Linked DNA regions of Homo sapiens. The protein of the gene in region 2 purifies or fractionates together with the protein of the main gene of each other region. This does not show direct contact. Each region holds a gene or a part of one and is shown on either strand. Other genes may lie near its edges.

Region 1 (3,727 bases), on a different chromosome or scaffold from region 2:
TAGTTTACGGTTTATTAGCTAGCTTTGCTTTTCAAGCTGTCAGCTTTTAAAAGCTTTTACCCATAATTCCCAGTACCTAATTTGCTTATTTAGAACTTGCTGTTAATTTCTTACATTTCCTGTGTATATGAAAGAACTTTGTAACTCAAATCCAACTTCTAGATAATAAGAAAAAGCCTGAAAGGGTAACTGTAACTGATTGGTCTATATGCAACATGGTCAGAACTGCAAGGGAAAAAGTGCCTGATCGGGGATCAAAATAGAGAAACCTCAAAATTCCTGGCTTCTCCAAGGTCAGGATTTCATGGCACGGTATCATTATTCTAAGAAAGTGAATAACCAAATAGAAGTGATATCTACATTCAAATATATCTAATGTAATCCAAAGCTAAATCAAAATAAGTTTAGATACTCTATGCCTCTATCCTTTCCTGTTAGTCTGGCAAAGTTGACCATGTTTGGTTTTGCACCAATTTGATAGTAAATCTTGTGAGATATAATGTAATCTCAAATAGTTTCAGCTTTTGCAGTAAATGGCACTAACACACATTTTCACTTTTATTTTTTTTTCACTTTTAAGAACCATATGTCGACATTGCAGTATTTATTTATAATGAAATCAGAATTCATGACAAGTTGTCATGACCTCTGATTAAATCACATCTGCCAGATGCATCTCTGTTAAGCATGGTCTCTAGAGTTTTACATTTTCACCCCCTCATCCTTTCCTCATCTTTCTAAATCACTACCTACATATTAAATACTGCCTATGAATACAAGGGAAATCTGCATAATGTCAGATATAGCTCACAGTGGGAGGAGCAATATGCAAATCACTTTTTCCATTTTCAGAAGATAGTGCCAGTGCCACTTAAAAGTACTCTTCCTGAAACCAGAGTTCAAATCTACAACTGGAATAATGCCCAAAGTCACTATGTACACAATGCTGAACTTTGTCATTTTAGGTGTAGGCAAAGGTTTCTATTTGAGGATGAATGGCCAGGCTATTTTTAGTCCCCCAAGAAGGATGGGTTGGATGGGTCACTGCAGATGGGAATCCTCATTACCCAAGGACCAAGACGACCGCCTTCTCCAGAGCTGTACAGGCAGCTGATAAAAGGACTATGGGGGAGGTGGGACAATCCACCTCTGTTCTGTGACATTAGAATTAGCTGTTACTTATTTTTTAAAGTGATCTAAAGGTGGTGGTGGGGAAATGAAACAGAGGAAGTAACATTGCTTTCCAACGGTTCAGTTCATTCAATGTAGCTACAAGATTAAAAACAAATTAAGACCATGTAACTTTGAGGCAATCACTTTTAGCTTACTTATAATAGCAGCGTTGTTCGTTTCTTTGCGAAAACGAAACTTTCTCAGCTTTTCCACTAAATCTTCGGCAACATCACAAACAACCAAAGACTCACTCTATAAAAGAAAAAAAACACACATAAAATGCCATGACTTCAATATATGTACATGTTAAAGTTATGAAACCTAATACCTTTATAATGCATACTGACATTCACAAATGTCAATTAAGTGAAAGCATTAAATACATGAACACTTAAAAGAACTTTAAAATCAACCAACCTTTGGATCTACATTGCTTAATCCTACAAATTTGTTCATCTCATATATGTAAGGTATATTTTAACTTTCTCTTTGGCTAATGAATGTCTCAAAAACCACACACATAATAATGTGCAATGTCATCAGAACTGGAGAGGAAGGGAAGAATATGGGGAAAGTCAAGAATCACTGTCTGCTGTTAGAAAGGGAGTCAAGCATACTATTTTTACACAGTGAAGGAAGAACAAGAAAATAATCTGATTATACTTAGAATTAATAAATTATTTTTTGTCCTCACAATTACAGGGGAAAAAAAATATAAGCAACAAAAGTGTTAAAAACCCCATAAGAGTAAAGACCAATAATATTTTATATTATAATTAAATGATTATAGAGATATAAAAAGGAGCTACTAAGAATGTGCAAAAGAAATAAAAGCAGAGACAAAAAGAAACATTGCGATTGATACCACAGAAATACAAAGAATCATTAGAGACTATTATGAACACTATAACAAAATGGAAAACCTGGAAGCAATGGATAAATTCTTGGACACACACAATCTACCAAGACTCAACCATGAAGAAATAGAAAACCTGAACAAACCAATAATGAGTAATGAGACTGAAACAGTAATAAAGTCTCCCATCAAAGAAAAACTCAGGATCTGAGGGCTTCACTGCTGAATTCTACCAAAGATTTAAAACACCACTTCTACTCAAACTATTCAAAAAAATTGAAGGGGAGAACATACCTCCAAGCTCATTCTACAAGAACAGCATTACCCTGATACCACAACCAGACAAGTATACAACAACAAAAAAAAACTATAGGTCAATATGCTTGATGAACATAGATGCAAAAATCCTTAACAAAATACTAGAAAACCAGATGCAACAACACATTAAAAAGATCATTCACCGTGATCAAGTGGGATTATCCCAGGGATGTAAGAATGGTTCAACATGGGCAAATCAATAAATGTGATACATTACATTAACAGAATAACAAAAATCGTATCATTTCAAGAGATGCTGAAAAAACATTTGATAAAATTCAACATCCTTTCATGATAAAAACCCTCAACAAATTGGGTATAGAAAGAACACACCTCAAAACAATAAAGGCCATATATGACAAACCCACAGCTGACAGCATACTAAATGGGGAAAAACTGAAAGCCTTTACTCTAAGTTCTGGAGTAAAACAAGGATGCCCAATTGTACCACTTTTATTCAACATAGTACTGGGAGTCCTAGCCAGAGCAGTTAGGGAAGAGAAAGAAATAAAAGACATCCAAGTTAGAAAAAAAGAAGTCAAATTATCCTTGTTTATGACAACATGATCTTATATTTAGAAAAAGCTAAAGACTCCATTAAAAAAAAAACTATTAGAACTGATAAATGATTTCAGTAAAGTTTAGGATACAAAATCAACATACAAAAATCAGTAGCATTTATATACAACAACAGGAAACAATCTGAAAAAGAAATCAAGAAAGCAATCTCACTTACAATAGCTATAAAAAATTTAGGAATAAATTTAACCAAAGAAGTGACAGATCTCTACAATGAAAATTATAAAACACAGATGAAAGAAATTGAAGAGAACATACAAAAATGGAAAGATTCCAAGCTCATGGATTACAAGACATAATATTGTTAAAATGTCCATACTAACCCAAAGTGATCTACAGATTCAATGCAATCCCCATCAAAATACCAATGACATTCTTAAAAGCAAGAGAGAAAAGATCCTAAAATTTGTAAGGAGCCACAAAAGACTGTGAATAGCCAAAGCAACCCTCAGCAAAAAGAACAAAGCAGTACTTCAAAATATACTACAAAACAATAGTTACCAAAACAGCATGATCCTGGCATAAAACCACACACACAGGCCAATGAAACAGAATAGAGAACCCAGAAGTAAATCTACACATTTATAGCCAACTCATTTTGGACAATGATGCCAAAAACATACACTGGGGAAAGGACACTCTCTCCAATAAATGGTGCTGGGAAAACCAGATAGCTATATGCAGAATAAAACCAGACCCCGGGCCGGGCACAGTGGCTCACGCCTGTAATCCCAGCACTTTGGGAGGCCGAGGCGGGCGGATCATGAGGTCAGGAGTTCGAGACCAGCCTGGCTAACATGG
Region 2 (3,500 bases):
CTCTCTCCTGCTTGAAAAAGTGGCGTTGCCAGCCTGGCTCTGCGTCCAAGCCTTTCCTGTCATCTCCTGGGCCTGCCCTGGTCTGCGCCGCTTCTGTGCATTTCTGGGTTCCTGTCCTGCCTGTTGGCACTTGCCCAGCCCTGCACCTTTCTCCCGGCTGTCTGGGGTTGGTGAGGGCTGGCCAGGCTGCACCCTGCTGCTGTTCTCCGACCACAGTGGGGGAGCCTGTTTCTGGCAGAAAGTGGGAGTTGGGGTGGGATGGAAGTGAGGGGCTGGGTGGAGTCAGGCCTGGGCCCCCTTCTGCTGCAGCCCTCTGCTGCCCTCCCCCACGTGCCCTGAGTTCCACCCTTGCCTCGCTGATCCCAACGCTCTTGCTTATGCCCCGTGCGTGCTGTTCCCACTTCCTGGTGAATCACCTGTGAGTCTCTGAAGACTCAGCTGGAATGTGACCTTTGGGACCTTTTCCACTCTTCACTCTTCTTGTTACACCCCCAGGCCACACCCATCCCCATGCCCTTGTCTCTGTTTCCCCTCTTTTTTTTTTTTTTTTTTTTCTTTTTTTTTTTGAGACGAGTCTAACTCTGTTGCCCAGGCTGGAGTGTAGTGGCGTGGTCTCGGCTCACTGCGACTTCCGCTGTCCGTGTTCAACCAATTCTTCTGCCTCAGCCTCCCAAGTAGCTGGGATTACAGGTGCACAGCACCATGCCTGGCTAATTTTTTTGTATTTTTAGTAGAGATGGGGTTTCATGTCGTTGGCCAACCTAGTTTCGAACTCCTGACCTCAGGAGATGGTGTGGCCCACCTTGCAGGCTCTTCGAGTTGATGCAGAGGGTGGGTCTGCTTTGTTTTGGCTGCTTGGGCTGTGTCCCTGCAGCACCCAGACTCAGCCGGTGCAGCCCCTCTGTTTCAGAGCTGGGGACAGCCGCCTGCCGCTGGACATTGAGTCCAGGCTGGAGGTTTTCCTTCTGGGCTCTTCTGCTGCTGCGAAACGTGAGGAGTGGAAGCGGTGAGATCAGATGGGGCGTGGGTGAGCACCCAAACGGGGTCGGGTAAGCCCTCGTTTCCAGCCTGTCTGTGTAAAGTGCACCCCCATCCCCTTCCAAGGAGCCCCCCAGTGGAGACTTCCTGTGCAGAGGGGCACATTAGCAGTGAGGCCTGTTAAAGGCCCATCCGCTGCGAAGATGGGTGTCATATAAAAGGCGGAGAAATAACTCGCTTTAGTGGGGGTGTGGATAGATGGAAGCTCATGCTTTACTGATGGGATTATAGAGTGGAGAGCACTTGGCGGCCCCTCAGAATGTTAAACAGAATTACCATGTGACCCAGCAAGTCCACTCCTAGGTGTCGACACTGGAAATTGGAACAGGGGGACTCAGGTACTCAGATGTTCATTGCAGCACTATTCATGATAGCCGGAAGGTGGAAACAGCCCCAGTGTCCTTCAGCTAATGATGGATAAGCAAAAGGTGGTCCATCCATACAACAAAATACTAATCAGCCATAAAAAGGAGTGGAATGCTGACCCGCGCTACAACATAGGTGGGCCTCAAAAACACGATGCTAAATGAAAAGAGACAATCACAAAAGGCCACACATCATATAATTCCATTTATTATTTTTTTAGAGACGGGGTCTTGCCCTTTTACCCAGGCTGGAGTGCAGTGGCACGATCATAGCTCACTGCAGCCTTGACGTCCTGTGCTCACGCGATCCTCCCGCCTCAGCCTTTGGAGCAGCTAGGACTGTAAGCACATACCACCGTGCCTGGCGAATTTTTACGTTTTTAGTAGAGATGAGGTCTTGCTACGTTGCTGTGGCTGGTCTCAAACTCCTGGGCTCGAGTGATTCTCCTGCCTTGGCCTCCCAAAGTGCTCGGATGACAGGTGTGAGCCACCACGCCTGGCCATATAATTGCATTTATATGAAATGCCCAGAATACAGAAATGCATCAGGACAGAAAGTAGACGGGTGATGGCCAGGGCATGTGGGAGGGAGGAATGAGAGGAGATTGCTCGTGTACAGGGTTTTCTCCGAGGGTGATGAACATGTTTTGGATCTGTGAGGGTTGCACCGTATTGTGAAGGTCCTAAATGCCACTGTACACTTTAAAATGGTTAATTTTATGTGAATCTCATCGCAATGAAGAGAAAGATCCTGATTACCCTGTTACCCCTTGAGGGTTTGAGTTGTCATGGCTTGGTGCGGACCATGACTCATGCCCCACCCTAGTAGCATGGCCTTTCCCCCTTGGCTAAATACCTTGGGGGAAAGTTTACTGCTGCAGTGACTTTGTTTATCAAGGTGCCTGTGTGGGAGAAGGTCGTTTTCTCTCCAGCAGTCTCATTGACACTGGGTTTCCGGAAAAAGTCCAGGGCCAGGAATTAACAGTCACAGCACCTTACCTCTTGAGAGATTTTTTGTTTGTTTTCATTTCCAACCATGCTTTTTTGTTTGAATCCCCCGATTGCTTGACACTTGTCTTTTCCTATAATGAGGTTTGTGACAGTGAACAAGGCCCCAGGTCACCTGCTCTTGGTGCCAGTCTCTGTTAACGCTACCCCAGCGCCTCAAACAGATGAGGCTCACGGGCCGGGATCATACAGGCACGGTCAGTGCCAGGCAGGTCTTGGCCCTTTGCTTTGGTTGACTTGGTTGATAATCACGGCAATCTTCTGAGGCTGGGCTGTGACTCCTCTTGCTTTACAAATGGGGAAATTGAGGCAGAGAGCGTTTTAGTAGCTTGCCCAAGACTACACAGCTAGGAGGAGGCAGAGCCAGGATCACAAAGGAAAAACTTCCCAACTAGTGTGTAGCAGTATTCTCAAGGTGAGTTTATTCAAATACAGGTGATTGTTCAGCCTTTGATTTATATTTTCTAACTCTGGTTTTAAAGAATGAATATTTAGATTGATTAAAATACAGATTTTTTTGTCCTGCCTTTGATTATATTAGCTTGGGCACTATGTTCTCAAACCCAGACTTTGTGACAATTATGGGTGTGTTTCAGTAGGTCATGGGCGTCACGATGGGCTTTTCCAGCTTTGTTTGTATCAGCTATTGATTTCTGTCACATCAAAACAATATTAGCTAGTCACGGTGGTTCACATCTCTAATCCCAACACTTTGGGAGGCTGAGGCAGGAGAATCACTTAAGGCCAGAAGCTGGAGACCAGCCTGGGCAACATAGCAAGACCCCATCTCTACAGAAGACAAAAAAAAAAAAATTAGCCAGGCATCCTGGTGTGGTCCTGTAGTCCCAGCTACTCAGGAGGCTGAGTGGGGAGGATTGCCCGAGCCCAGGAGGTTGAGGCTGCAGGGAGCTGTGATGGCACCACTGCACTCCAGCCTGGTCAGCAGAGTGAGATCCCACCTCAGCAACACAAAACAAAAACAAAACCCAAAACCCAGTATTATGTAGCTCTGATGTGTTTTAGCTACATTTTGTGGCTATATCAGTATATATTAACTTGACCATATAATTCTCAACATTTATTTTCTGT
Region 3 (3,727 bases), on a different chromosome or scaffold from region 2:
TTAATAGAGGGCAGCGTCCTTTTTTCTTTATTTTATTGTAAAAAACACAAATTTGATCATCTTAATCATTTTTAAGTGTTAACAGTAGTGTTAAGTCTATTCACACTGTTGTGCAACAGATTTTCAGAAGTTTTCATTTTGCAAAACAGAAACTGTACCCATTTAACAACACTGTGCCACCTGATGTCCCCTGGCCTCCTTTACTTTTATGTAAGCCTGACTCTGTCTCCTGCTGGGATCTCACAAGGAGGGAGACCACTCTAGAAATAGCATCACACATTCTTTCAGTAAATACCCTGGCCAGAGAGTCTGCCAGCTGGATACAAGAGGCACCGTGGTCTTAGGACAGGAAAGGGGGTATTGTAAGTAAAACCTGAGTCAACAGAGAGAGATTACTGTGACTAGGAAAGTTAACTTTTCTCCTTCACCAGAGTGGGAAGCCGAAGCAGAGTGTTCTCACTGTACTCACTCCCTGGTCTTGTTAGGACTCACCAGAGCATTCTGTTTCCTATGTTGTGGTTGACCTCTGACTAGCCAATATTTTGCCTCTGTTCTGCCTTACTCTTCTCTGGATTCCCATGAGTTAAAACACATTCTAAACCATCTCCTTGGAAAAGCAGGCTTGGTTCCATCCCCTGAGAATGACAGAGCAGGAAAGTGGAGCTGGTCCAGTAGTAGGCCTGGGTCCTGTGCTTACTCCATCTAACAAGCCCAGTGACCTTCTAAAATAACTCAACACTGAGCTGCTTCTTCATCAATCAGATGGTGATCAGTGAAAACACTTCAAGAACTCTCGATGAAGATGAGGTAGTGATGTTATTCTTAGTCCTTCTCTTTTCTCTTTCCCACCCCATTCCTTGTGCTCTCATTTCAGGGTTTCTCGGTGGAGGGGCAGGAGAACCTGCAGGAGATCCTCAGCAAGCAGCTGCTTCTGTGTCAGTTCCTCATGGCGCTGTCCATTGTCCGGACAGGTGACACTTCCTCAGCTGTCTCCTCACCCCAGGACCCACTTAGAGGCCCTATTGGACAAGAACATGTACAAGGGGTTGGTGGGGAAGTTAAAAAAATCTGCTTATATTAGAGGACAGGTAGCTAAATGAGTAATTTAGGGAAGAAAGGGCTGTGGAATCCTCAAAGTCCCCTCCAAAGATGGTTCTCCCCCTTAAATTGTCTCTGAGTTTTAACAGACCCAGGTGCTGGTTTCCTTGACTTTGTCATATTTACTCCCAAGACTACTTCACCCATCTCTTGGAATAGACCCATTGGCTGCTTTTGGTGTTTTCTCTCTAATCTAGGAGGCCACTTCATCTGTAAAACCTTTGACCTGTTCACACCGTTTAGTGTGGGGCTTGTCTACCTGCTGTACTGCTGCTTTGAACGAGTTTGTCTCTTCAAGCCTATTACCAGCCGTCCTGCCAACTCAGAGAGGTGAAGCCTTTCTCTCTATATTAGCCAGATTAATTGGCTAAATGTCAGAACAGCAAATCATGGTGCATCTCTCTGGCATGACCTCTTAAGCTACGTTTAAAACCTTGACTTTAAAGAAGTGATGAGAGCCAACAGGATTCAGGATTCCTGGATCTTTTGGTCTTGTGATATGCCAGTTCAGCCTCTGCCTCCTTCTTCCAAGCCTTATGCTCCATGCTTATGTGAGGGATTCTCAGCTTGGCCAAGGAGAAAGTGACCAATAGTAGGGACACTTCAGGGGTCTTGGGCTGGGAAGGGGCAAGGAGCCGCTATCCAGAGGCACTACTGGGGTCCCAGTGTGACACTGCCCACACACAAGGTGAGAGAAAATGCAACCAATCAGAATTGCCCGGTGGCTTTGTTACAAACACATATTTCTGGGCCTTCTCCTGGGAGAGTTTGATTCATTAGGTCTATAATTTAACAGACTCCCCAGGTGATTGTGACACAGCCCGTCTGTCACAGGGAAGTTAGGAACTACTGCGATAGAGAGTAGAAATAGAGCTCAACAGAGAAGGATTTGAGGGGAACTTTAGCACCACAAAGGGTCTGTGTTGTTCTTTGTGCGTAGGCCTAAGGTTGAACAGGGAAGCCATTAAGCTTTGTGATTCCACAAGGGGTTGGGGGAAAAGGAATGTATGGGGAGGAAGCCCTTGCTCGGTGGAGTGACAGAGTATCTTCTGCCAGGTATGTGGTGTGCAAGGGCCTGAAGGTGGGCATAGATGATGTTCGGGATTACCTCTTCGCAGTGAATATTAAACTCAATCAGCTGCGGAACACGGATTCCGACGTCAACTTGGTGGTCCCCCTGGAGGTGATCAAGGGAGACCATGAATTTACTGACTACATGATACGGTCCAATGAGAGGTAAGCCAACGGGCTGGTTTTTGCTGGTAACACTGAGGTCCTAAGGAAGACCAGAGAGTGAAAGACTGAATGGTTGGCTCTTGGTATCACTTTGTCAACCCTGACAAATTGGCAACTGGGTTTGGTCTGCTGGTTTCAGGGCTCCCTGGGACTTTGGTTAGTTACCCTCAGGGACCCCCATCCTGCTGCCATGCCCTATCCCAAGGGTGGCAGGTAGGTGCCTGGCTAGTATAGGCCTGCCTGCAGGAGCCTGTGTATAACAGTGAAAGCTGACAGAGCAGCCTGTGTCCCTGGAGGCAGGAGTAATTTCCCTTTAATTGCTGCTGTTTGTAAAAGGCCATCATGCTTGTTGCCTGGTGAAGTCCCTGTTTGGAGGCAGGAGATGGATGGAAAGCATGTGTACAACATGCTTTGGAAGTGCCCAAACTTTTGCCATTTCTTCATGAGTTCCCCAGCTGGTGATCCAAATGCTGTTTTCTGTATCTTCTTTGTTTTCCCCACTCCCTGTTAGTGGTAATAATTTAAAGTTGTGACATTTGGCTTAGTTTTCTCAGTGGGCAGGCCTTTGAAAAAAGTGTTTGGAGATAGGCTGGAGGGTTGTATAGTAGTAGTGATTCAATAGAAAATGCTCTCTTAGGGGGCTAAACAGGTGTTGGAAAGGCCTTAGTTAAGGGTCCAACCTTAAGTCCCCCAGAGAAGTTTGAAGATAGAGGTGGCCCTGGAGAATCATAGAAGGGGAGGAAGTCTTTATCCTATTCTCTCCTATTTTTCCAGTATTGCCTGGTGTTTTAACTTTCCACAGTACTGCCATATAAGCGCCCTCATTTTGATAGCAATGGTAGGCACCAAGGTGGAGCAGACAGTAAACTTCAGCATGTTATAGATGAGGAAGCAAACAGGCCCAGCGACCCGCCTGGCTAGGGCTTTGTAACACTTCTGGGTTATGGAACATGTCTTTTGGCTGAACAAGTGTGCATAGATGCATGGCAGAACTGGAATTCTTTTCAGGGGTTCCAATAACACAGAGTGTTTAAGCAACTCTATAACCAGCCACTTTTCTTTTTCTAAAAAAGTTGAGGTATAATTCTGTAAGTGAAATGCAAATCTTAAGTGTATAATCAGTTTACAAATGCATATATCCTTGTAGCCTACATCCCTATTAAGATAAAAAATGTGGCCGGGCGTAGTGGCTCACACCTGTAATCCCAGCACTTTGGGAGGCTGAGGCAGATGGATCACGAGATCCGGAGATCGAGACCATCCTGGCTAACACGGTGAAACCCCATCTCTACTAAAAATTCAAAAAAAATTAGCCAGGCGTGGTGGCGGGCGCCTGTAGTCCCAGCCACTTGGGAGGCTGAGGCAGGAGAATGGCGTGAACCCAGGAGGCAGA

Evidence for each region.
Region 1: the proteins of MEAK7 (region 2) and GMFB fractionate together in Homo sapiens (co-fractionation; one large-scale study listed by BioGRID). This does not show direct contact.
Region 3: the proteins of MEAK7 (region 2) and CMTR1 fractionate together in Homo sapiens (co-fractionation; one large-scale study listed by BioGRID). This does not show direct contact.

Annotation. Positions count from the first base shown.
Region 1 is NC_000014.9:54,482,343-54,486,069, forward strand, and holds part of GMFB (glia maturation factor beta), read right to left. Parts: intron 1,426-3,727; coding exon 1,329-1,425; intron 1-1,328. UniProt on the Homo sapiens protein: This protein causes differentiation of brain cells, stimulation of neural regeneration, and inhibition of proliferation of tumor cells.
Region 2 is NC_000016.10:84,498,160-84,501,659, reverse strand, and holds part of MEAK7 (MTOR-associated protein MEAK7), read left to right. Parts: intron 1-3,500. UniProt on the Homo sapiens protein: Activates an alternative mTOR signaling through RPS6KB2 activation and EIF4EBP1 repression to regulate cell proliferation and migration. Recruits MTOR at the lysosome, essential for MTOR signaling at the lysosome.
Region 3 is NC_000006.12:37,460,675-37,464,401, forward strand, and holds part of CMTR1 (cap-specific mRNA (nucleoside-2'-O-)-methyltransferase 1), read left to right. Parts: intron 1-874; coding exon 875-971; intron 972-1,295; coding exon 1,296-1,428; intron 1,429-2,154; coding exon 2,155-2,334; intron 2,335-3,727. UniProt on the Homo sapiens protein: S-adenosyl-L-methionine-dependent methyltransferase that mediates mRNA cap1 2'-O-ribose methylation to the 5'-cap structure of mRNAs.